7 linked regions of the Homo sapiens genome follow. The protein of the gene in region 6 purifies or fractionates together with the protein of the main gene of each other region. This does not show direct contact. Each region holds a gene or a part of one and is shown on either strand. Other genes may lie near its edges.

Region 1 (3,500 bases), on a different chromosome or scaffold from region 6:
GTGTGTGTGTGTGATGGTGTGTGTGTGGGGGGGTGCGGTGGCGCTGCCTGTGGTTGTTATGAGAATTCAGTGAGATAGCCTCTACCCTGCAATGGTAGCTGCTATTGCATTCTTTCCCAATGAAAGGGTCTCTTTCTGTTCTGTTGTTTCTCTTACTGTAAATACAGTACCCTTTGTGACTCATGAGATTGGGCAGGGAGATAAAACGGACCTCAGCTCACCTTAGCTCATTCAACGATCTTTTTTTTCCCCTTTTTTTCTTTTTTTTTTAATTTCTTTGAGTTGGAGTCTTGCTCTGTTGCCCAGGCTGGAGTGCAGTGGTGCGATCTCGGCTCACTGCAACCTCTGCCTCCTGGGTTCAAGCGATTCTCCTGCCTCAGCCTCCCTAGTAGCTGGGATTACAGGCGCCTGCTACCACGCTCAGCTAATTTTCGTATTTTTAGTGAAGACAGGGCTTCACCATATTGGTCAGGCTGGTCTCAAACTCCTGACCTCAGGTGATCTGCCCTCTTCAGCCTCCCAAATTTCTGGGATTATAGGCGTGGGCCATTGTGCCCGGCCCAGGGCTTTTTTATTTAAAAAAAATTTTAATGCCATAATCCCTTCCATTATTGACATTTTTTACTTTTTGTGTAACTCTGAAGGTTTTGCAATATGGGTAGTTTGGAATTTATTTTATAATCTTGAAATATTATCAGTTGACATATGTTGTCATGACGAGAAAGATTGTGTTGGTCAAAGCTATTATTGGTTGTTTCTTTTTAAACACGAGCCACTTAAGGAAGCAAGTGGCTGAAGCCATGATTGTTAGCTTCCACTGGCACTTTGCATTTTTCTTTCTTTTCTTTTTTCTCTTCTCTCCTCTTCTCTTCTCTTTTCTTCTTTTTTTTGAGACAGAGTTTCACTCTTGTTGCCCAGGCTGGAGTGCAGTGGCATGATCTTGCCTCACTGCAACCTTCGCCTCCCAGGTTCAAGAGATTCTCCTGCCTCAGCCTCCTGAGTAGCTGGGATTACAGGTGCGCACCACCATGCCCGGTTAATTTTTTGTATTTTTAGTAGAGATGGGGTTTCAACATGTTGGGCAGGCTGCTCTCGAAACTCTTGACCTCAGGTGATCCACCTGCCTCGGCCTCCCAAAGTGCTGGGATTACGGGGGTGAGCCCACCATGCCCAGACCTGCATTTTACTTTCATTGTGAGTTATTTTTGACATAAACATAAATTTCATTTTCGTCACTCCTACACAATGCAGGCATTGGCAGTTTGTTGAAGGGCAGTTCTGTATGGTGATAGATACTGTCTGTATACAAAGATGAAAACTGTTTTTATAAATATTTCTGATTGCTCTTATTTTCTTGTTCTTGTGGAAAGTGAGAATGTAGCCAAATAGTCATAAACAAAACCAAGCCCCTAATCTCTTTTAAAATTTTGATATTATATCTTTGTTTTTATAGTGTGAATATTATCTCTAAAGGGTATAAAACTTTTAGATCATGAGCTAATCAGTATAACCAGATTCGTTAGTACAAATTTGTCATAAACTATCTGGAATGCAAATACCCTACTTAGAATAAAACACAAAATTCTGGAACAGGGAATATAAAAAATAATCAAAGCTTACATCTCTTTTTTTTTCCGAGATGAAGTCTTGCTCTGTCTCCCAGGCTGGAGTGCAATGGCGCGATCTCGGCTCACTGCAACATCTGCCTACTGGGTTCAAGGGATTCTTCTGCCTCAGCCTCCCAAGTGGCTGGGATTACAGGCGTGCGCCACCACGCCCAGCTAATTTTTTTGTATCTTTAGTAGAGATGGCATTTGACCATGTTGGCCAGGCTGGTCTCGAACTCCTGACCTCATGATCCGCCCTCCTCGGCCTCCCAAGGTGCTGGGATTACAGGCATGAGCCACTGTGCCTGGCCAAAGCTTACATCTCTTTAATAACTTATGTCAAGCTTTCACAGGGGTCTGTTCTTTTTGCCTAACATGAGTTGAATCGGGCTATGAATTCAATTAACACCTTTTAATACTAGATCAATTAAAAGCATAAATTGGGCCCTTGTATAAATACAGATTGACTTTTATTTTTAGAAAAAGAATCAGTAATTATGAGATTTGTATTTATATGATCTGTTTAGATTTATCATATGATGTTTATAATAAAATTAAAAGCATGGCCTAAATTTGCAGTGAAGAAAAAAAAGAAGAGCCACACATACAAAGCAAAATGATTTTGTTTTTATTATAAATCACATGGAAACATTTCTTGAAAGAATTAGAGCCTTCGACATCACAGGTCAAGTGATTATACTGTTTCTGAGTCAATGAATAATGTGATACCTGCATTATTATTAATAATAGAAATTTCAGAACCATAGTATGTGCTGCATATGGATTGTGTTTGTTCTGTTTCTAATAGCTAGAAACCAGTGCCTGAAAGAAACTCCAATTAAAATACCAGTAAATTCAACAGGAACAGACAAGTTAATGACAGGTGTCATTAGCCCTGAGAGGCGGTAAGTGTTTGGTTTTTTTAGACTCTAATCTTTAGTATATGTAACCAGATTTCCTTTTTCATGTATTAATAGACCTGATTAAGGTAAATCATCACATAGATTCTGTTGGAGAGTAGGAATATCTGTTTATGTGTGGATGACCTGTGGCCATTCCTGGACCTGTAGCCACTGCCTTCCTCATGGGGTAGAATCATGAAACTGATCAGCAGTAGGACGGCACCTTAAGTACAACAGGCTGGGAAGACAGTGGTCCTCACCCCAGCCAACTAGTTACCTCTCTGAGGCCCATCTTACCCTTCTCTTCTGCCAGTAAAATACAGATATCCTCTAACAGATTGTAGTCCTCCCAAATCGTAAAGATACTGTTGTTTCAAAGAAAATCCTCTGTATGAAAAGTTCTGCAGCATAGGTAACTCTTCAAGTTGCTATTCTTTTATAGCAATTTCTTAAAGGCATTGTCTATTTTCAAGACAATTGGAGAATTAGAATGTGGACAGGGTATTAGATGATATTATGGAATTATTATTAATTTATTGATGAAGAAACTGAGGAGATCAGGAATAAAATGATTTATCAAAGCTATATAGTACAAAGCTGGAGCCAGAACCCAGGTCTTCTCATTCCTAATCTTATGGTTTTTCTCCCACAGTCTGGAAGTGCTGGAGAACTACCTAGAAAGCCAACTAACACCACAGTAGTTTCTATTGAAAAATGCATTCAGGTTCCAAAATATTTACATAACTGACCATTTTTAGAACATTATCCGTTAGTATTTGGTAACTGCTTAGCTTCTCAATAATGTGTATATATGTGGTTGAACTAGTTTCCTTAATTTTATTTAACATTTTTCAGTGCAATGGTACTATGGTTTTTTTAAATCTCAGTGTCAGTGCTTGAAATACTTAACTATCTCCAACCAGAAAAATTTCAGAACAAAAGGATAAAATATGCCTAATAAACAGCCATATGTAACGTAAACTTCTCAGCA
Region 2 (4,086 bases), on a different chromosome or scaffold from region 6:
GGGTTGGTTAACTTAGTGTAGTATGAAGTTACAAACAAAAAAGGGTGATGGTAGTGCAGTGTTTTGAATTAACATGGAACAATGTGTGTGAAGGAATAATTGATCCAGAACTTTATTGTAGAAACCTGTCCCCATCAAAGCCATACATGGGGCTGTATATATATGTCCAGAGAAAAGGTCTTCTGCACACTTAACTGTAACTGTTAGTCATAATTTCTCTGCAGAGTGGGATGGTGGGGCTAGGAGGAAGGACTTTCACTTTTAATTTTATGATACTCCAAATCATTTGCATTTTTTTTTTACAAAAATTATGTATAATTTTTCTTTTTTTTTTCTTTTTGAGACGGAGTCTCGCTCTGTCCCCCAGGCTGGAGTGCAGTGGTGCGATCTCGGCTCACTGCAAGCTCCGCCTCCCGGGTTCAAGCGATTCTCCTACCTCAGCCTCCCGAGTAGTTGGGATTACAGGCGCGCGCCTCCACGCCCAGCTAATTTTTGTATTTTTTAATTAGAGACAGGGTTTCACCATGTTGGCCAGGCTGGTCTCGAACTCCTGACCTCGTGATCCACCCGCCTAAGCCTCCGAAAGAGCTGGGATTACAGGCGTGAGCCACCGCGCCCGGCCCAAGATCATGTATAATTTCTATAACAAAAACAATAAAGGAAATAAAAATGTCTTCAGTGTTGTACCTTGTACTTGGCCTATGTTACAACAGGAATGACATATATTCCATTTTTAAGACATTACTTAGGGCTTTATAGATTTCTGCTTTAAGGAATAAATGCAATTTCAATCTATTTAAGACTTGATTTCTTCTTATATAAAAAAAGTATCTGATCTTGTATCTAATTTGTTATGACAGTACCATCACTTAAAGTACAGCAATTATGCAACCCCTGAATTTGAATTTCATTTTGCAAGTGTACATGACCTCACGGACAAAGCGAAGGCAGAAAGTTAAAATCAGCATATCGAAAATAAATCACTCTAGTTACCGAAAAGAACATAGGGTATCTGAACAAAATCTCAGAGCTCACATAGGCATAGATACTTCCATGTGAACTTTAGGAATCTTGCCTTATCTAACTTTTGCAGGGCTGAGTGGACCCCCTGCTCCCGCTAGCCGTTTTGGGAGCACCAGCCACCTCCACACCAGAACTGGGCTGTCGGGGGCCGCTGCGGCGCAGGGGCTCGTCCGGGACTGAGTCAGCGCCGGGGCCGAGAAGTTCGGCGGGAGGCGCAGGGCGGGGCTTCCTCCCGCCGACTCCGAGCCCGGCTCTACTTTTCTGAGTCCACGTCTCTTCCTTTGGACAGGCGTGTTTCCCCAGGTCGGGCCCAGCCAACGTGACAGCCGCAGACCTCGGAAAAGGGCGCTCCGGCCCCGCCTCGAGGATTTCCCCCGGCCGCTAGGGCAGCCCGGGCCCGCTCGGCCCAGCCCCTCACGGACTGCGGCGCGCGGCTCCCCGGGGCCCGGCCCGCCGAACGCCTCGCTCTACAGCCCTCACCTCGCGGCGCCGAGCGCAGCGTCCGCGGCATGGAGACCGGCTCCGACTCAGGTCAGAGGCCCGCCCCCGGGCCGCGGGGGACTGGCCCTGCGCGCGCGGCGGCGCGGTTAGGCCGGGCCGCCCGCACAGGCCGCCGCGTGTCGAGTCCGCGCGGGGAGCGCACGCGGGGCGGGCGGCGACAGGTGGGCAGGACGAGCCGCGAGCGAGCGAGGGCGGGCGGGCGCGCGAGGGGCCCGGCGGGGGGGCCGCTGGGAGGATGGCTCAGCTCTTTCTAAATATAAAACCGGCGTGAGTTGGGCGAGCGCGGCGCGGAGTCGCAGAGCCGCCGCGCGGGCCTGGCGCACGGGGATTCGGCCGCACAGACGGCGGCGGCGGCAGCGGCAGCGGCTCCGCAGAGGCGCGAGGCTGCGGGAGCGCCCGAGTCGCGAGCTCGCGGGGGCAGCGAAGGGCGACGCTCGCGACGCGGAGGACGCAGGCGGCGGCGGCGGGCGGGCCTCGGGGCACAGCGCGGTCCGCGCCGAGTGAACGGAGGCGGCTCGCGGCCCCTGCCGCACCGCGAGCCGCGAGCCCCCCGGCCGCGCCCTGCCCCCCCAGCCCCTCCCTCGTTCCCTCCCCGGCGCAACATGGCTGCGGCCGCCGCCTCCGCCTCCCAGGATGAGCTGAGTAAGTGCCGCGGCCGAACCTGCGGCCGCGAGCCGGAACGGGCGCCGCGCGGTGCCGGGGGCCGGCGGCCGCATGAGGGCTGGGGCGCCAGGCCCGGTGGGCGGGCGGCGGCCGCGGCGTACGGGGAGCTGGGGAGCCCGGGCCTGGCGGACGGGCGGGGCGCGGACCGTCGCCGCTGGCGTTTGTAGGCCTCAGGTTTGCACCGTCACGTTGCGAAATTGAAACCGGAGCCCCGGGCGGAGCCACCTCTGCCCGCGATCCGCCCTGGCCCGGGGTCGGGGGAGCCCAGCCCCCTGCCCACTGAGCCTCGGCTGGCGGGAGGGCCGGAGCCCCGGGGTGACGGGCAGTGTCCGCCCGTCCCGTCTGACCCCGCCTGGCCCCGGGTCCCCGACGGCTGGTTGAGTTATAGAAATGGAGCTTTCGGGAAGGGGGAGAAGGTGCCTTTTTGTGACACTCTAGTAATCAGCCGAAAGGTCACGAATAGGCGGTGACCCTCAGATGGAGCAGGGAGGGCGGAGAGGGTCGCCGGTCGAACCGCAGGAGAAACCACGGGGTGACAGCGCTTTCAGAAAGGAGAGTTAGTGCCCCCTCGATCGTACGCGGTGCAGCCTTCCCGGGGACGGCGGTCCCTGTCTGGGGAGAGCGGTGGTCACCCTGAATCCCAGGCCGCCCCGCCCGCCGCCGGGGTTCGCCTCAATGCTTTGTGGGAAGTGTAGTTCCGGGGCGCCGCGGACCCACGCTGGGGTCATAAATACCGAAGTTTCATAGGACATAGGACATGTGAGATAATTTCTGATTGCGTTTTGAGTGTTCTCCCCCCCAAGGGTTTTCTTTCTTTCCCTTTTTTTTTTTCTCCCAATGCTGCCCTTCAGTTTATGGCAAAAACAAGAAAGGTGTTATTTGAAGATGATGTGGGTTTTAAATGGAATAAAGCATGGGTGAGGTGTTGCAAGCTTTATGAAGCTTACGTTGTTAAAGCCGCTTCTGAATTTCCATATGAAAGTAGTTATACACGTAATGTATGTTTTTCTGGTGCTTGTCAGTTTAAAGCCACTTTTATATACATGATCTCACTTTTGCCCTCATAGCAACCTTGTGAGGCAGATAGGTAGGAATTATCCTTGTTTTAAAGAGGAGGCAGGTTTGGAGAGATTAAGTTCCTTGCTGCTTTGACACAGAACTGGTGGAGCAGGAGTACTGTTTGCTTTTTTTGAAGCTGAAGTAAACACTTGGTGTGATCCTGAGCAGATTGGAGAGTCGGAGGAGACAAGGTCTCATGGTGCGATTAGAGAGAGAAGCGGGCTACAGATTGCTCTTCTGTCGGTTCCACGTGGAAGCACCACCAGGCCTTCTGAGATCAGTTCCATGTTTTGTTTTAATTGGAAGAAAAGTACACATACCATAAAATTTCCCGTCCTAGCCATTTTTTAAGTGTACAGTTCAGTGGGATTGAGTACATTCACACTGTTGTGTAATCATCACCACCATCCATTTCCAGAACTCTTCGTCTTGTAAAACGGAAACTTGATACCCATTAAACAACAAATCCTCATTCCCTCCTCCCTTCGGCCCCTGGCGACCATCATTGTACTTTCTGTCCCTGTGATTTTGAGTATTCTTCCTACCTCGTGTGAATGGAATCATACAGAATTTGTGACTGGTTTTATCTTTATTTAGCATAATGTCCTCAAGGTTCATCCATGTTGTTGCGTGTGTCAGAATTTCTTTTCCTTTTAAAGGTTGAATGATATTCCCTTGTATGTATATATCACATTTCCTTGTCCATCTATCTGTCTATGGACACTTGGGTTGCTTCCACATTTTAGCTATTGGGAATAATGCTGTTGTGAACATGGGTGTACAGATACCCCTTTGAGACCTTGCTTTCAGTTCTTTTGGGTACATACCCAGAAATGTAAT
Region 3 (4,283 bases), on a different chromosome or scaffold from region 6:
TTTTACCTTACACCTAGTATTAATGCTGCTTCCCGTTTTGTCATTTTGGGTTCAAACCCACCTCTATAATAGCCACCACTGAAGGCCTGAAAGAAGAAATGCATTTGTAAAGAAAGGTTAATAAAATAAAGTTGCTTTAAAAAAGACGTCTGGAAATATTCACAGAACTAAGAAAAACTAAGACATTTCAGAGGACTTTTAGTGCAATTCCCGAGGTATTTTAGCTAAAGCTGAATAAAGTTTATAAATAAGTAGCAACAAGTAGTATTTTAATGATCATTAAACAGATTCATTTTTTTCCAGTCAATATGAACTATCTTAGAAATATAAGACAAAATAACAGTGTCTGAAAGCCAGGTCTTCCGGGAGTAAAGGAAAGATCATTCCAAATTAGCCATATTCTAGATAAAAATCTGCAAGAAGTGGCTCAAGAACAGAAGTCTTTTGAGACAAGAGGTTCAAGTGTATTTGAAACAAGACTTTAAGATATATATACAGAAAATACCACTATTAGGTCCTCTGACCTTGCCATGTCAGAAATCATATTGGTAAAGCCTACAATCACTCTATTCTGTTACACTTAATCACAACATATTCAACAGGTGATCACAGCCAAATCTATTCTTAACTGTGACCACAGAGAGTATGACCATAACATCAAGCCAAACCCTATAGCCTAATTAACTAGAGTGCTACCTATGTATGATGTTTGGGAGTGCCAGGGCCACATGGTCAGATCGGATCACTTTAGAATCATATACCTCTGTGTGTGCGATGCAGAGCAGATGAAGGAAAACAAGAATATGTACAGATGATGCTGAAGGTGATGGTATGTGAAAAAGTGAAACTTGGGTCTAGTGGGGTACTAGAATTGTCAAAACCCCATCCAACTCTGTCACATATAACATCTGATGTTTCAGGGTAGCACCATCACAAAGTTCAGAACTTCTATACTCTCCTTGCAGGAAGCAGGAGAATGGGTCCAAAGCAATCACTTAGAACTTCATGGATATTTGGAAATTTACCCTTCCCTAAGTGTGGCTCTAGGTTTCAAATAGAAGCAGCAAAGAATTAACAAAGTCTTACAGATTTTGGTAGGCTTTGAAAAACTTGTTTTACTTGAGGCTCCATATGCTTCATGGCTTGCAAAACGTAACGGCCTAAAACCAAAAGCAACAGAATAAGTAAACTAAATCTCCAATCTCCCCGACTTCACTTCCATCCCCAAACCATAAACAAACCTGCAAATCCTGCAGCAGCAATGGTCAGTCCAACTGCTACCACTGTACTGGCCTGGTAAGGGGGAGAAGAGTAAATATTTACTTCTCTAATTCCCACCCTTTCTCATTTTGCCCATTCTTCCATCCCCAACTCATTACAAACTGCATTTTAATAGGAGAAACAACTTTTTTTTTTCTTTTTTTTTTTTTTTTTTTAAGAGACGGAGTCTTGCTATGTTGCTTAGGCTGGTCTTGAACTCCTGGCCTCAAGCAATCCTCCCACCTTGGCCTCCCAAAGTGCTAAGATTATAGGCATAAGCCACCATGCCTGGCAGAGAAACAACTTTTAAGGCGGAAATATTCTGTCCAGTAATCTTTAAAACTACTGCATCTGTTATGCTGAATGCATTAAAGTTACAGGATTCATCATATGGGAAAGAGGGCAAGTTCGACTTGCTTATTTATCTTTACAATAGTGAAAAAGATGATTCCCTCCCTTTGAAAACTTCTTTCATCACCAGACAAATTAAGTCACATTAAAGTTCAATCAAAAGTAGTGGAAATAGGCCAGGCGCGGTGGCTCACGCCTGTAATTCCAGCATTTTGGGAGGCGAGGCGGGCGTATCACTAGGTCGGGAGATCGAGACCATCCTGGCTACCATGGTGAAACCCCGTCTCTACTAAAAATACAAAAAAAAAAAAAATTAGCTGGGCGTGGTGGTGGGCGCCTGTAATCCCAGCTACTTGGGAGGCTGAGGCAGGAGAATGGCGAACCCGGGAGGCGGAGCTTGTAGTGAGCCAAGATTGTGCCACTGCACTCCAGCCTAGGCGACCGAGCAAGACTCTGTCTCAAAAAAAAAAAAAAAAATGTGGAAATAAGGTTTCTGCTACAGAAGGAAAAACTGTTTACAGACGGCTCCTGTAAAATTCTAACAACGCATTTTCGAGGCTAAACGTGGGCTAAACTAGGAGACTAATACCTTTGGCACTGCCCTGTTGTTTCCTAACAAGACAGGCCCAAATATGTTCAGGAAGCATGGAGAAGACATCTGTCAGCAAAAGCCAAAGAGAAGGACATAGCAAAGTGGAGCTAGTGCTGTGAAGATGTGTTAGGGCAAGGGCACTTATAATCAAATACGTTTCCACTAATCTCCGAGTCCATGACAGCCTCTGACCTTACAGGAGTTCCAGGCAAGCAACACCTGCAGAGCCCGTGCGGACAAGAAGCTGGAGAACCGTGCAGAAAGACGATGTAAAAACACAAACCCCCAAGAGAGCGAGCCAACAGGGTTGTGTCCTGGTGAGTGTGACTCCCCAATAACCGAAACCTCCCGCCCGCAGTCGCACTAAGGAGCACAACTTCAACTCCACACCTCCGAGGCGGGGAGCTGAGGTTGAGGCCTGGGCCGGAGGTCGCCAAGAAGACCGGAAGGCCGCACTCACCATGGCTCCGGCTGGGCTCCCTTGCTTCCACCGGGAGCACGGCTCATCCCAGCTCAGAGGCCGCGGCCAACACCTGCACGCCTTTACCAGAGAGCGACGCAACCCCCAACCTCAAGCACAGGCGCCCTACGCAACACGGCAGGAGCAGCCGCAAACTAGGCCGGAAAACTGTCGTAAAAGGGGACGCGGAGGAGAAGGAAAGTCGCTCAAGCAGTGGACAGAGCGGAGAAAGCGACTTCGGGTTGGTTGAAGGGTGGGCGGATCTCTTTATTTCTGGGTGTAGGGGTGGGGCTTCTCTGTGTTTTCTGTCCTTTGCTCCTGGGCGGTGGGTATTTGGAAATTCTTGCAGGGAAGGGCATGGGCAGCCTTACTCAGACCGATTTTTTCCCCCTACATCTTAGCACCTCGTTTTGCCTTTATTTTATGTTAATAATTGTCAAGGGTAATGAATGTAGTTAAACATGCTGTGACATTTCCACCACGAACCCAAACAAATATGTTGTAACCCAGTGTAGGAAACGAGATGCCCAGAAAAACAAATGAAACCAACCACACTGTGTTTCAGGGATTGCTCGGTAGCATTTTTTAATGTAAAAGAACTTCATTTAAGGATGTGACTTGACAAGACTTTGTGAATATTTGGGTTTTCGTTTTGTAGAATGGGATTAAAGACAGTTCATATTCTGAACATGGAATGTCAAGATCCTACAACTGAAAAGGGCTATTTAAAAGTTTTCCTCCTCACCCAAAATAAAAAGTAGGGCTGGATTTTGCCCTTACGTGGACATCAGTTTCATACATCCCTACATAAATGCTTGAGAAGAAAAAAATAATGGAGACAATAATGGAATTTTACAATGCAACGTTTGCATGATCAAAATAAGTTTGGAGTTACTTCCCACTCAGAATTTACAGTGTTAAATATCCGTTTACATTGCAATGCAATTCTGCTTTGATGAGTTTGTTAGTTATTAAACAAATATGCAAAATTTTTGGGTTTGTTTTCCTCATCTGTAAAAGCAGTTTGCATTTGATAATCCAAGAGCTCTTCTAGCGCTAAGGTTTTTGTGATGTAATTTATTGTCAACACATGATTTAAGGTGACATCCAGCACTAAGACACTAGCATTAAGTTTATAACTTCCTCTTTTGCCTCTCTTTTATCTGGTTTTTACCCAACAATTACAAAATAAATAATCAAGTGAGGCATAAGACCTTGGGACCAAATTGGCATCAACAAGCTAGAATGCTATCTGGAAAAATTTATTATGCATATTTTTGGTATGTACAAACTGTGTAATGCAGTTTCTGGAGGAATAGATTTACAGTAGACTCTAATTAGCTTTGAGACTTTACAAAACCCAGACTCAGGAAATTGGGAGTAGCAACACAGCAAGACATTTTGTTGAGCTGGAGATAGCTCTTTTTTTGGTGGCAGATCAAACTGGAGGTAACCTGGCTCTGTCACTTACTAATACTGTGACTTGGAAAAGTTATTTCTGATTGAGTTTCTTCCTCATTTGTAAAATGAAGGTAATGATAACTACCTTGCCGAGTTTTTGTGAACGTAGAGATTATGCACATATTGTGTTCTGCTTATGGTCATCACTCAGTGTGGGGC
Region 4 (3,500 bases), on a different chromosome or scaffold from region 6:
GAAGTGGTAGCTCATGATTTTGTTTTGTTGTGTTTTGTTTTGTTTTTTTGAGACGGAGTCACACTCTGTCACCCAGGCTGGAGTGCCATGGCGCAATCTCGGCTCACTGTAACCTCTGCCTCCCGGGTTCAAGTGATTCTCCTGCCTCAGCCTCCCGAATAGCTGGGGCCACAGGCCATTTGTTTTTTGTCTCATGGCTTTGAGGAACATTTCTTTGGTGACTAATGATGTTGAGCATCCTTTCATTTGCTTATTGCTCATTTGTGTATCATTTTTGCGGAAATGTCTGTTCAGATCTTTTGCCCAATTTTAGACTAGGCTATTGATCCTTTTATTTTTTATTTTTATTTTTTGAGATAGAGTCTCCCTCCGCTGCGCAGGCTGGAGTGCAGTGGCGTGCTCTCTGCTCACTGCAGCCTCCGTCTCCTGGGTTCAAGTGATTCTTGTGCCTCAGCCTCCCATGTAGCTGGGATTACAGGCACCCGCTACCACGCCTGGCTAATTTTTGTATTTTTAGTAGAGATGCGGTTTTACCATGTTGGTCAGGCTTGTCTCGATCTCCTGACCTCACGTGATCCACCCGCTTCGACCTCCCAAAGTGCTAGGATTACAAGTGTGAGTCACCGCGCCTGGTCCCTTTTATTTTTACATTGTGAGGGTTACAACTATTTTGTTGTTGTTAGAGACAGTGTCTTGCTCTGTTGCCCAGGCTAGAGGGCAGTGGCGCAATCATAGCTCACTGCAGCCTCAAATACCTGGGCTCAAGCAATCCTCTCTTCTCAACCCCCAAGTAGCTGGAAGTACAGGCACGTGCCACCATACCTGGCTAATTTTTTTTATTTTTATTTTTTGTAGAGACAGGGTCTTGCTATATAGCTTAGACTGATCTTGAACTCCTGGGCTCAGGTGATCCTCTCGTCTCGGTCTCCCAAAATGCTAGGATTACAGGGGTGAACCACCGCGTCTGATCACCTATTCTTCATATTTTTTATATGTGTTACAGTTTTCTGTAGATAACCATTTATCTGAGAATGTCTCCAGAAGTGTTGGAAACCTTCCCTGTTGGATTCCTCTGCTTCATAGGATGATGTGAGCACTGTGGTGACTAATAAAGGAATGCATTCTTAGAAATGATTCATTGGTCAGAGGCAGGGCTGTGTGACATGCCACCATCCGCCATGTTTTAGTCCTTTGTCACTGCTTGAATTGGGATGGACGAGGTATGCATATCAGATATATGCTGGTGGTGAGGTGCACTGGGAGGCGCTGGTGATACAGTGAGTGACGGCATCAAGATCTTGACAGTTTGGAATAAAGGACTGAAATGTAAAAGGTGTTAGCTCATAGGAGCAATGTAGAGGGTAGAAATGTTAGCAGCAACATCTTTCATGAGAAAAAGACCTTAGGGTTTGGGATGACCAGCAAGAGTGGCATGTGCCTGATTACCACAGTAACATAGAAAACAGAGCTCTGTGTATTTTATTTTACTTTTTTCTTTTGAGACAGAGTTTTGCCCTTGTTGCCCAGGGCTGGACTGCAATGGCGTAATCTCAGCTCACTGCAACCAACCTCTGCCTCCCAGATTCAAACAATTCTGCCTCAGCCTCCCAACTAGCTGAGATTACAGGCACGTGCCACCACACCCAGCTAATTTTTTTGTATTTTTAGTAGAGACAGTTTCTTTTTTTTTTTTTTTTTTTTTTTTAGTAGAGACAAAGTTTTTTGTTTGTTTTGTTTTGTTTTTTTTGTTTTTTGTTTTTTTTTTCCGGATGGAGTCTCGCTCTTTCACCCAGGCTGGACTGCAGTGGCACTATCTCTATCTCGGCTCACTGTAAGCTCCGCCTCCCGGGTTCACGCCATTCTCCTGCCTCAGCCTCCCAAGTAGCTGGGACTACAGGCGCCCGCCACCGTGCCTGGCTATTTTTTTTTTTTTTTTTGTATTTTTAGAAGAGACGGGGTTTCACTGTGTTAGCCAGGATGGTCTCCATCTCTTGACCTCGTGATCCGCCCGCCTCAGCCTCCCAAAGTGCTGGGATTATAGGCGTGAGCCACTGCACCTGGTCTAGTAGAGACAAAGTTGAACCATGTTGGCCAGGCTGGTCTCGAACTCCTGACCTTAGCTGATCCACCCACCTCATCCTCCCAAAGTGCTGGTATTACAGGTGTGAGCCACTGCACCCAGCTAGCTCTGTGTATTTTAGTATGCCTCTAGAAACATCCACGCAAGGAGGCTGGATTGATGGAGGCTCCACGTTTGTGTTGGCCCCCAAATGTAGGCTGTCATTGGTGCCAGATGCTTAAGGAAAGAAAGAAACCATGTGTACAGTGTGGCTTCAGCGCTGGGAAGCTTCTTATTGAAGGTGAAGTATTGAGACTGGTGTCATTTCAGATACAGCATTATCTAACTTATTTGCCCTTTTTTGTTCATCTCACATTCTGGTTAGACCACTGAGTTTGTGGCTGTAATAGCAGGGTCAGAGTGGAAGCAGTCGGTGTACTTTTTTTTTTCCTTACATGTTTGTTTGTGTTGAGATATTTTTGGTGTTGGGACGTCTTTACCTCCCTGTGAGGGATGCTCATATTCACTCCGTTCCCTCTTCCTAGACACTCGTACAATGCTTGCATCATCATGTACTTGTGGTCAGAGCTCAGAAGTCATCTGTGGGTTGTCGGAGTGTTCTGGGTTGTCTATCCCACAGCCTCCTCCAAACAGAACCCCGTTTTGTTTTGCCCCCATCCCACACATACCAAGTATGCGTCAGAGAAGCAGACCCTAGGCCGGGCTCACGTATTGGTGATTGGTTCAGGAATGGACACGTGACCCAGTTTGGCCCAGTGAGAGTCAGGGAGAGTTTGGTGGAAGGTTCTGGGGAAGTGCTTCCTTGCCCCTCTAGGAAGGATCCAAAAGCCATTTATCGTCGCTCTCCTGGCTGAAGCTGTGTCTCCACTCACAGCGCAGGGCAAGCTGACATACAGGGCAGGGGAGAGCTGGGAGAAGCACAAGGAGATGGAGGCTTGTCTCGGTCAGGGCAGCCCCGATGCCGTCTTGCTTCTGCACTCAGTCGCTCGAGTCATTGTGGCCCTTCCTGCTTTTCAGCCAGTTTGAGTTGAATTTTCTGTAACTTGTGGGTAGAGATATCCCAGCCAAACTGAAAACAGTATTTTATAAAAACATGTTCGTTTAATTGTCAGTTTGTTGCACATAACATTATATGCCTTATTAAAAATATGTATTGAAGGCCAGGCGCGGTGGCTTACACCTGTAATTCCAGCACTCTGGGAGGCTGAGGCGGGTGCATCATGAGGTCAGGAGATCAAGACCATCCTGACTAACACGGTGAAACCCCGTCTCTTCTAAAAATACAAAAAATTAGCTGGGCGTGGTGGCGGGCCCCTGTAGTCACACCTACTCGGGAGGCTGAGGCAGGAGAATCGCTTGAACTCGGGAGGCGGAGGTTGCAGTGAGCCGAGATCGCGCCATTGCACTCCAGCCTGGACGA
Region 5 (3,500 bases), on a different chromosome or scaffold from region 6:
GGGGAACCCGGGAGTTCTTGGCAGAATAGGTTACGCTTAAACAACATTAAGGGATGGGTAGAAGCAATGGGAGAAGGGCTTTCCAGGCATGTGGAGCCCTGCATGTTGAAGCGTGGAGCTGCACAAAAGCCTGGCATGATTGGGAAAGATGGGAAAAGTTCAGGGTCTGAGGACAGCACAGGGCTAATCCAATTACAGGCTAACCAAGTGAGTTCACAGACTTCATCCTCTACAGCTGTTTCTTCCTCGAACAGCACTGTGCCTGCAGGCACACCCAGGTCTGCCTGAGGACACGCAGGTCAGAAGGGGCCTCTACCATCTGAGGAATGTGCTGCCATTTGTGTTACCCAAGCTCCAGCCAGCTGGACGTCTGGAGCCACCACATCCTTTCAGATTTAAACACAACTTCCCTTGATGGGAAACCGGCCTCCCTCCCCAATCCCTGCGGTTTCTCCCAGGCACCACTGACTCCTACTCCTCGCTTCTTCCGCGTTATCTCATCTTCTCGGTTTGCTAGACACGATCTAGCAGCTCTGGCACAAATCCAACTGCGCAGCAAATTTTACTGAAGGTTTAAAAGTATAGTGCAGCCCACAACCCCTGACGGAATATTAAAGGGACTCTTATTTACCACCGGCCACCCCCACCACTCGGGGGGATTGGGGGTCGTAGCTGTTCACTGGTAGCTCTGCCCCACTCTGTTCTGCTCATCTTCTCATTCCCCACAAGCCCCTGATTTCTCATTCACAGCAATTGGGCTCATCCAGCCCCATCCTCCAATAACCATAGAGGACAGCAAGGTTTTTGTTTTGTTTTGTTTACTAAAGGAAAGCCAGCTCACACTGAGGATTTCTATACTGGTGTTTTCTCCCTCCCTGCTACCATCCTTGAAGGGCAGTGTAGGAGGAAGATCTCAAGAGCCTTTATGATTTAATGAGATGTAAAAATCCACCCTCCAGTGCTGCCGAGTTTCTTAGTGGCCTTGCTGAGGGGCTGGGATTCTACTCCGTCCATTTTTGGCCAAATGGAAAGACACATCAAAGATTCCCTTCTCTTCCTGGGGATTGCAAAACCCTTCTGTCTCCAGAATGTGTAAACAGACCCATGCTAACTGCAGGGGAAACTCTGACTCTCCCGTCCGTCAGCCCCTGGGCCTTTGTGCTGCCTGGTGCTGTTGTCTGAGCTTGGCAGGCCAGCTCCGGTCAGGGGATTAAGCGACGGGCTCGGTGGCGCGGCAGCGTGTGGAGATTGCCCAAGCCCTAGGCATTTCCTGTTGCGAGAAGGCCAGGCCCTGCCCTTGAGCACGAGGGCGGCGCCTCCTTCCCCAGGCCAGGGACAAGAGGGAGGAGCCAGGGACTAGAGGGAGGGGCCAGCGGCAAGAGGGAGGGGCCAGGGGCAAGAGGGAGGGGCCAGGGACTAGAGGGAGAACTGCCCCCGTGTGCAAGTGGAACCTGGAAAGCGGGGAAACCGGCTTCATGCATCTTACTATATCCTGAGCACTCAGCGGGGTTGCGAATTAGAGAAAGCCAGTTGTAAATCCTTCTTTAAGTTCTTTTCGTAAAATATAGGGGGAGAAAAACCCCTGGACAAGGCATCAGAAAACCACACCAGAACTTCACCTTTAGGGGTCACTTCATTTCTCTAGATCTGACTCCTCTTCTGTGCAGTGAAAAGACTTAATTAGATGAGCTCCTAAAAAATTAAGAGGCTCATGAACCTAGTTGAGTCCCCTGTGGAATAAAGCGGCTTTATTCTTGGAGTTTCTTAACGTTCGTGGTGCTGCTGTGTTCAGCTTTAGGGGATAGAATTTCTGTTATCTCCTTTGGAAAACTGCCCCAGACTGGGAATGCCCAGGCTTTCAGAGCCATATTTTGTATATCTGTGTTCACAGCCACTTACACAGAAACATACATCCACCTCCAATGTAAAGTTTAACCACATATAGGACATATAAGATTCCTGCTTTCACATCATAAGGTGAAAGAAACCTCGGAAATTCTAAGGTAAAGTAATATGAACTATAATATTTTATTGTGTTGGGGACTTTATTTTGTTATATTTTGCAGTTATAAATTATCAAAATTAAGTCCATGTGCGGTGGCTCACACCTGTAATCCCAGCACATTGGGAGGCTGAGGTGAGAGGATCACTTGAGCCCAGGAGTTTGTGACCGGCCTGGGCAATATGGCAAAACCCCATCTTTACAAAAAATAGAAAAATTAGCTGGGTGCATTGATATGTGTCTGTAGTCCCAGCTACTCAGGCAGGCTGAGGTGAGAGAATTGCTTGAGCTGTGGTAGTTGAGGCTGCACTCCAGCCTGGGTGACAGAGTGAGACCCTGTCTCCAAAAAAAAAAAAAAATTATCAAAATTAGCAGGTACAAGGAGAAGTCAAAAATGAGCGTGTATTTGTTGCCATCAAATGATTGGAAAAGCAAACCACAAAAGAACAAAATCCAGACTGGCCAATGCTGAGAAACAATCAAAGGAGAATGAGGTTGCATGAGTTCAAATCCAGCTCTGTCACATACAAGCTGGGTGACCTAAGTCATTTAACGTCTCTATTCTCGTTCTCTAAAATAGGAATAATAACACCATGTACCTTCCTGGGTGGTTGCAAGATTAAAGGATTAATAATACATTTAAAGTGCTCAAAAGAGTGACTGGCACATAACATGGGAAAGGCTGCATAAATTCAATGGTGTGTTATCATGAATGCAATATGTGTTTATCGAGCACCTACTTTGCACTTAGAATACAAGGGTCAGCAGAATCTGAGAGCGAGCAACCAAGTAAGAGAGAGAGAGACACCCAAGTGTCAGCTGTCAGAATGTTGTACGTCCTAGTCTGCTGTGACCTCTCTGTCCTTTAAGATGTATTAAATTTTTTGAAAATCATTTTAAAGAAGACTGCCCATCCCAAGCACAACATGTAACTCAGGGAGTCTTAATGTGCCAACATGTTTCTGCTTTGCTTTGTCACCTTTTGTCCTGACCTCTCCTGCCTTTGCTTTTTTGCACCTTGCCTCCTGCATGGGGTGCCCCATCCCACGCAGTGGTGCCCTGCATAGGACTTCACCCAAATGCCACCAAAACAAGGCTGTGAGAAGCAGGCTTCAGCATTGTGAGCAATTTCTCCCTCTTTTGTTCATTCCTCTGCTTTATCAACCCCTTTTCCAGCTTCCTTTCTCTACCCAGGAGAGAAATCATGCCACTTCCTTATAATCCATCCATGACTATAAATGGTGATATTTTTCTCCCCACAACAAGAATAATTACAGTGCCAAGATGAAGAGCAGTTGCTACATCTCCTCCCTTTTTCCATCCACAGTTACAAGTTCCTCATCTTCTTTCTTCATCTTAAAAAATATAAACACTAACTTCTTGTCACTGAGCTAAGTTGCAGACACTTAATTAACTGCTTTATTTGAGTCATCTTATTTAACTTATTTGTAAATTCAACAGATAATTCTTGGGCACCCACCACATACAACATAGTGCT
Region 6 (3,500 bases):
TTAAGATGAGGTTGTACTAGAGCAGAGTGGGCCTTTAATCCAATATAACTGGTGCCCTCATAAGAAGAGGAATATTTGGGCATGCTTGTGCGCACACACACACACACACACACACACACAAACACAGATGGAAAGTGGGGCGCGGAATGCCAGGTGAAGACACAGAGAAACAGACATAGGGAGAAGACAGCCATGTGAAAATGGAGACAAAAATTGGAGTTATGCTACCAGAATCCAAGGAATTTCTGAGCCTACCAGAAGCTGAGAAGCTGTAAGAGACAAGGAAGGATCCTCCCCAAGAACCTTCAGTGAGAGCATGGCTCGGCCAACACATTGTTTTCAGACTTCTAGCCTCCAAAACTGCGAGACAATACATTTCTGTTGTTTTCGTCACCCAGTTTGTGGTACTTTGTTATGGTGGTCCTAGGAAACTAATAAGTACATAAGCTTAGTTTATCTAAAAGGTGAGAGCATCAAATTTAGCCTATTTTTCATTAAATACTTCAATAGGAAATTGAGCCTATTTTTTTCATTACCTGTAAAAATAGTCTAGGTGACCCTTGCAAGACTACTGTTGTAATAAATAAAATCTTCATGCCCCTCACTCTCCACCCTCTCTCAGCTAACATTGCAGAGTAATGGATAAATGAAATTTGCATTTCTCCTTGTCAGGTGTCAGTTCTGAAAGGTGTTTTTTATTTAAGTTTCCAAAATGCCACCACTTGTGTAAATCTAAAGTTATTTTGAAATAAAAAGATTTTTAAAAATCCAACAATGTTGGAACGTAAATATAGATGTATTTTCTCTAGCATACTTGGAACTATTTAGCGAGATCCCTAACTTGAGTTTATAGCTCTAGAATTACTAGGCAAAATGGAAACTTATACTCCATGATGTCTAACAGATAGGGAAACAAATCCAGAAAAATAAGCAGTTGAGATTGCTCATATAGAAGACTAGTTCTGACAGAGTAGTACTTATCAAAATCAAAGTATTTAAATAGTCAAAATATACCTTGTACAAATTAAACCTCCCTGGGCCTTGGTTTACTTATCTGTATAATGCAATAGTTGGATCAGATGATCTCTGTAGTTCTTTCTTCCATGAATCTTTTATGATTCCAGAATTTGGGGTCATAAAAGAGATACAATAAAGCTATGTAATTCACAAAGTAAGTAATATTCTATGTTAATTGGCTTTTTACTAGTTTACAATGTAGCAATACTGTAATACATACGGTAGATTGGCTTTGTCTCTTTGATAACCTTATTTGCTGAAAGAGCAGAGAGACATGGGAGAGAATGCTTGAGGTAAGAGTGGTGCATGAGGTGGGTACAGTGGTGTGTGCCTATAATACTAGCTACTAGGGAGGCTGAGGTGGGAAGATCACTTGAGCCCAGGAGTTCAAGGCCAGCCTGGGCAATATAGCAAGACCCCATTTCCTAAAGAGAGAGGGGTCGGGGTATGTGGATATGTGTATAGAAAACAATGAGCTTCAATTCCTTTCTTACAGCAAATATAAAAATTAGAGAGGTATCATAGTCTTAAGTGTAAAAGCTAAACCCATAAAGTTTTAGGAAAGAAATATAGGAGACTATTTGCATGATTCAGGAGTAGGCAAACGTTTCTTAGACATAATTCAGAAAACAATCACCATAAAAGGAAACATTGAATAAATCAGACTGCATCAAAATTAAAAACTTCAGCTCATTAACAAAAATCATTAGGATAATGAATAGGCAAGCCAAAATCTGGTAGAAAACATTTATAAAACCTGTACAGTCAGTACAATCAGTTTGAGAAAGTTCTCATGGTTTCTTAGACAGCTAAACACACATCTGTCTACCCTACGACCCAGCAATTCTATTATTAGACATTTAGCCAAAAATTAAGATATATATTCACAAAATGACTTGTATAAGAATGTTCATGGCAGCTTTATTTATAGTATCTCACAACTGGAACAGCCTAGATATCCATCAGTAGGAGGATGAGTAAACAAATTGTGGAGTATACCTAGTAATAATAAAAAAATGATAGTTGCATATAACAGTATGGGTGAATTTCTAAAACATTATTCTAAGTAAACAAATCTTTACACAAGAGATTACCTAGTGTGTGTTTCAATTTATATGTAGTTCTAGAATAGTCAGAGCTAATCTATGGTGGAAAAGAAAATCAGGATGCTTGTTGCCTCTGGAGGATGAGGAAGGAGTTAATTAGGAAGAGGCTCAAGGGAACTTTCTGGGGTATAGTAATATTCTATATCTTGACTAACATTTAGTTACATATATGAGTTTGCCTTTGTCAAAACTAAGCAAATGTACATTTAAGATCTTTGTGCAATTCTTTGTGTGAAAATTTTATTTCAAAGAAAAAACTAATATTAAACTCCAGTTAACGATATGCTTGCTGAAAAATTTTTGAGGAAGTGTACTGACATTTGCAAATTATATTGAAATGCATAAAAATAAGATGGATTAATGAATTGATAGAGGAATGGATAGATGAATTTTAAAATATTAATGGTAGTATTTAGATGGTGGTAATACAGGCTGTTCGTTGTCAAATTCTTTTAACTTTTTTCATGTTTGAAAAGGACATTTCAAACATGCAGAGCAAGATCATTAATAATTTTCTCTGCACTAAGCATTTCTTTATGTTTCTAGAGTTGTTTTTCAAATATAAACTTTTAAGTTAGATATTCATTTCCTTTTCCTCAGTAGTAATACTCCTTAGGTTTGTGTGTTTTCTCTAGAATTGCAGATGAGAAGATCAAGCCTACCAGCCACTGATGCAGCCCTAATTTTTGTGCTGACCATAGGAGTCATTATCTGTGTATTTATAATTTTCTTATTGATCTTCATAATCATAAATTGGTAGGTGAATAGTGGAATGCATCATCACCCTTGATTGACATCCTCTTCTTCCCCCTCCTCATCCAGTGAATTGCAAAGCCCTGTCCGTGATGTCTCCTACATGTTGCCTTGAAACTGTCCATCGCCTTTCATTACTCCTGTGACTGCCCTAGTTCAGGCTGCCCCGTCTCTTTATGTAGATGCTTTTTAAAACAATCTCATGACTTGCTTCTCCAACTATGAGAGAGCTTTTAAATGCAACTTTTACAATTTTACACGGTAATTGCTTTAAAAAGTTTTATTTAATGAATATTTGTGTTGTCCAGTTGTGGTTCTCTCAACTCTAAAACTTGGTTATTGTAACCTACTAATTCATTTGTATGACAATATTTATAATACCTACATGAGTAGTACACCCTGGTAAGTCTGAGGGCTCATATACTATCGATTTGTAGCTGATGCATCGCAAACTAAAAATGAATAATGAATACAAAGGCACTTCTTAGAGAAGAGGTAATATATATGTTTTATATATATGTACATATATATGTACATATATTGTATATACAATATACATATATCTTCTATGTACATATAATGTATATACAATATACATATATCATATATAGGTCATATGTGTGT
Region 7 (3,500 bases), on a different chromosome or scaffold from region 6:
AGTATTCCTTCAGTCTTTGTAGTAACTGGATTTTTTTATGCTTCTGGTATTGCTTTATAAAAGATTTTCATTTCAGAAAGCTATGTTCACATTTATCATTTAACATATTGATTTAAATGTTGATTATGATATTCAAGGATAAATCCTAGGCATTAATGAAAAATAGTTTTTTTTTAAGTAGTCAAAGAGTCCAACAAAATCCTTCAGTATTTAAAGGTACCTGCTTATACTTTTTGAGAAAAAAACTGGTTATTCAAAGGTAAAAAGTGAATCCATTTACTGTTATTACTGATACTTAAATCGTGGTTTATAGAAAACAAAACTATATTAGAATGGAAATGTGTAATAACTTGTTGGTTAAACATTCTTACTAAATAGACTGTTTTTAACCTTTGTGTTTAAGATAAATTTATGTATTATATTTTAAAGCACTAGTGTTTTATTGAAAAGTGAACATGTTTGATTGCAGCATGCTTGCAGAGAGTTTTCTTATGTCCCTAGAATATTTGCAACTCTTACTGAATCCATGCTACATTTGGTGACCATACTTCAGCTTGCCTAATACAGTCTCAGTGTAACACCTAGTATCCTGTTTATTACTAGTGATTACTTTCACCCTCAAGTATCCCACCCAGTTTGAAGATGAATTATATGGTTCCCCTAACTTGAAGTTAATCTTTCCCCAAGACATAAATTTAAAATTTTTATTTTTATTTTTAATAAATATTATCATGTAAGTTTTTTTTTAAAACACAGCTCTATGCAGATATTGAAAGGAATAGAGCATCATCCTCATTATCTGAAAATTTTGATCTTTGAGTTTTTATGATCTTTGCAATTAGATCCCTTTTAAAATAATTATCAGTGGATAGACTTACTCTGAATTGAAGGTCATATAGACTACACTTAAGAACACACACATACAGTCTTTTCATGTGAAGTGTGGCCAGAAAGCAATAAGCCAGGAGCAGAGATAATTTGATCCTCTTTGTAATTTAATGATTGACTAATTGAATACCTTTGGCAAATCATGTAGCTCTTCAGTGCCTCAAGTGCTTCATTCTGCACTTTCATTTGCAGAATGAAGATGATACTTGCTATTTACCTGCTGATCTACCTTACAAAGCCATTGTGAGGAAGTTGAATTGGTGTTTATGTACTGGAGTTTATAACTGTGCTATTTTTCCTAGTGATACTTGAAGGTATTGGATGGGGAAATGATCATCCCAGAAATGGGTCCAGTTTCTTATTATTACAGAAAAGTTTACAAGTACTTAAAGCAAAAACGCTTTTGGACTAATTCATCAAAAGTCCTGTGAAAGTAGTGTTGTTTTATTTAGTCTTTGGGTTTACTTTGGAATAATTTCTTAAGTATAATGTTTCTCATCAGGTTTTGTCATGAAATTAAGATGCTGTTGTTGAAACAGAAGCAGAAAAGGAAAAGAAATTAGCCAATTACTTTTATAACTAACTTTTATAATGCCCTAAGATAAATTGGTAGGAACGTGTAAGGTAATGTTACCACTTTCCTTTAGTATTAAATTTTTTATGGTTATAATAATTGAAGTGTATACGTGCATACACTTCACAACCGGTATAGATTCCTTTATGACTTTCAAGTTATATTTAAAATATTTGGTTGTTTCAGTGATTCAGAATATTCAACTTTAAGCAGAATTTGTCTTACAGAATGTTATATACAATCATATAAAAATGTTATTTTGTTGGATAAATTTGAGTTCAGAAGGCAATGACTTGACCCTGGAAGACTCAGTTTATTGCTGGGGAACCAAGTTAATATTTGTCAAGCCACCCTGTGTAAAAAACTGTAATGGGTAGAAGTTTTCTCTTTTGAGAAGCTTATTGAAATATAATGACATCTACTGCAAAATAGGACTACTAAATACATATACTTTACATGCAAAGTACATTTCTTAAAGAATTATTTCTGGTAATTTTTGATGACTTTATTACTTGATAATAAGTATTAGTTTAAAATTTTCCAAATTATTCTTTAAATAGTTGTTAGGTAAGAATATTCAGTAAGCCAGTAATTCAGAATAACTATTGTAGAAAATAATAATAATCTATTAATTTAATGAATCACCTCTAAATTACTAATTAACTTCTTTTACAACATAAATAACTTGTTATCAATAGAGCATTTTTGTAAAAAACAAAAGAAAGAATAAGTTTAATTATTAAAATTTGCTCTCTTACCAAATGAATACAAGGGCTTTTGAATAATCTCATTGCATAAGAGGCCCTCATTTCACAGAAATGGTAAGAACTAAATCAAAAGATTCAAGGGTTTTCCCTTTATAAAGAATAGATCAGAAAATTTGACAATCCAGACATTCAAAAAAACATTCTGCCAGTTGATTTTTTTGGACTACTATTTGATTAGATGATCAGTTCTGAAATTTAAGCTGCATGTATGCCCAAATTAAATTAGCATAGGAAAGTCAATGTGTGTGGTTTTTTAAAAGTATATTTTAGCATATTAATGGAGCAATTTAATTTACATTCAGTTACAAACCTCATTCTTATTAATAGGTTTAGGGAATGTTCTTGCTGGTGTGCTGATTACCATATTAGAGAAAAAATAAACTCTCCATATTATAATTCACCTGTTTAGTAAGGTGAGTTTCTTACTTGTGATTTGAGTGGATTATGCCTAAAAATTACAAGTATATTTGCACTAAGCGACAAAATATGTCCCTGAAAAATCTTAGCGTACTTGAATCATCAAATGTAATGGATTGTATTGAATTCTAAATGTTAAGAAGTAAGTGGATTTAGGGTTTTGTCTTTCTTTTCTTATGTCCTCTCTCATTCCTTTATACCTTTCTTCCTTTCTGAGGCCTATGTTTATAGCATGACTTTTAATGTGCTGAAAGATTTTCCTTCTGTTTTGTGTACAGAGTTGTTTTTGATGAGTGGTACGCTCAGAAGGAACTAGTTCTGACTACAAATCCCACTACTTGAAATAGCAATATTGTACCTAAAGTAGTCAAACAGATTTTGCTAGACAACTAAGCAACATCTGAATACAAATGTAAAGTATGCTGGCTCAGTGTATCTTTTAGGTCACTAAAGAGGACACATCAGTAAATAAATTGTTTTCAGTGTAATATTTTTACATAAAAATAGATTTCCCCCCCAAAATTTAAGATTTATTTAGATTCTTGAGACATCTTTTTATGAAAAGGAATTAATAACATACATCATCAAAACTTTTCTTAGGAGCGTTGAAACAATATAAGAAGGTTACAGAAGGCCTTCTAAAATATGAATTCCCATCTGTATGAGGTACTTCTTTCCAACTCAGTGACTTTTTGCCCAGAGACTTGGAAGACTGGGCAATGTTTTCTTTCCCCTTTCCCAACTCCTGGAGACAAGGCCCTAGGAGCAATTTCCTCCAGTAGGGCAGGCCGTAGTCCTGCTCTGTCTTACTTCCCACTGCAGCAGGAACATGTCCTCGCCTCTGATTCCTTCTG

What was found.
Region 1: the proteins of SPACA1 (region 6) and MELK purify together in Homo sapiens (affinity purification with mass spectrometry; 3 studies listed by BioGRID and IntAct, with this or other methods). This does not show direct contact.
Region 2: the proteins of SPACA1 (region 6) and ECPAS purify together in Homo sapiens (affinity purification with mass spectrometry; 3 studies listed by BioGRID and IntAct, with this or other methods). This does not show direct contact.
Region 3: the proteins of SPACA1 (region 6) and DNAJC19 purify together in Homo sapiens (affinity purification with mass spectrometry; 3 studies listed by BioGRID and IntAct, with this or other methods). This does not show direct contact.
Region 4: the proteins of SPACA1 (region 6) and DAGLB purify together in Homo sapiens (affinity purification with mass spectrometry; 3 studies listed by BioGRID and IntAct, with this or other methods). This does not show direct contact.
Region 5: the proteins of SPACA1 (region 6) and ANTXR1 purify together in Homo sapiens (affinity purification with mass spectrometry; 3 studies listed by BioGRID and IntAct, with this or other methods). This does not show direct contact.
Region 7: the proteins of SPACA1 (region 6) and LMBRD2 purify together in Homo sapiens (affinity purification with mass spectrometry; 3 studies listed by BioGRID and IntAct, with this or other methods). This does not show direct contact.

Annotation. Positions count from the first base shown.
Region 1 is NC_000009.12:36,666,895-36,670,394, forward strand, and holds part of MELK (maternal embryonic leucine zipper kinase), read left to right. Parts: intron 1-2,415; coding exon 2,416-2,512; intron 2,513-3,500. UniProt on the Homo sapiens protein: Serine/threonine-protein kinase involved in various processes such as cell cycle regulation, self-renewal of stem cells, apoptosis and splicing regulation. Has a broad substrate specificity; phosphorylates BCL2L14, CDC25B, MAP3K5/ASK1 and ZNF622.
Region 2 is NC_000009.12:111,481,584-111,485,669, reverse strand, and holds the start of ECPAS (proteasome adapter and scaffold protein ECM29), read left to right. Parts: upstream 1-1,286; 5' UTR 1,287-1,532; coding exon of another isoform or gene 1,533-1,554; intron 1,555-1,612; exon of another isoform or gene 1,613-1,685; intron 1,686-2,107; exon of another isoform or gene 2,108-2,126; coding exon of another isoform or gene 2,127-2,166; intron 2,167-2,268; exon of another isoform or gene 2,269-2,361; intron 2,362-4,086. UniProt on the Homo sapiens protein: Adapter/scaffolding protein that binds to the 26S proteasome, motor proteins and other compartment specific proteins. May couple the proteasome to different compartments including endosome, endoplasmic reticulum and centrosome.
Region 3 is NC_000003.12:180,986,937-180,991,219, forward strand, and holds the start of DNAJC19 (mitochondrial import inner membrane translocase subunit TIM14), read right to left. Parts: upstream 2,801-4,283; 5' UTR 2,667-2,800; coding exon 2,664-2,666; exon of another isoform or gene 2,396-2,663; intron 1,294-2,395; coding exon 1,242-1,293; intron 1,161-1,241; coding exon 1,087-1,160; intron 87-1,086; coding exon 7-86; intron 1-6. UniProt on the Homo sapiens protein: Mitochondrial co-chaperone which forms a complex with prohibitins to regulate cardiolipin remodeling.
Region 4 is NC_000007.14:6,441,455-6,444,954, reverse strand, and holds part of DAGLB (diacylglycerol lipase-beta), read left to right. Parts: intron 1-3,500.
Region 5 is NC_000002.12:69,177,179-69,180,678, forward strand, and holds part of ANTXR1 (anthrax toxin receptor 1 isoform 1 precursor), read left to right. Parts: intron 1-3,500. UniProt on the Homo sapiens protein: Plays a role in cell attachment and migration. Interacts with extracellular matrix proteins and with the actin cytoskeleton and thereby plays an important role in normal extracellular matrix (ECM) homeostasis.
Region 6 is NC_000006.12:88,061,341-88,064,840, forward strand, and holds part of SPACA1 (sperm acrosome membrane-associated protein 1 precursor), read left to right. Parts: intron 1-2,739; coding exon of another isoform or gene 2,740-2,758; coding exon 2,759-2,879; intron 2,880-3,500. UniProt on the Homo sapiens protein: Plays a role in acrosome formation and establishment of normal sperm morphology during spermatogenesis. Important for male fertility.
Region 7 is NC_000005.10:36,099,888-36,103,387, reverse strand, and holds part of LMBRD2 (G-protein coupled receptor-associated protein LMBRD2), read left to right. Parts: 3' UTR 1-3,500. UniProt on the Homo sapiens protein: Recruited to ligand-activated beta-2 adrenergic receptor/ADRB2, it negatively regulates the adrenergic receptor signaling pathway. May also regulate other G-protein coupled receptors including type-1 angiotensin II receptor/AGTR1.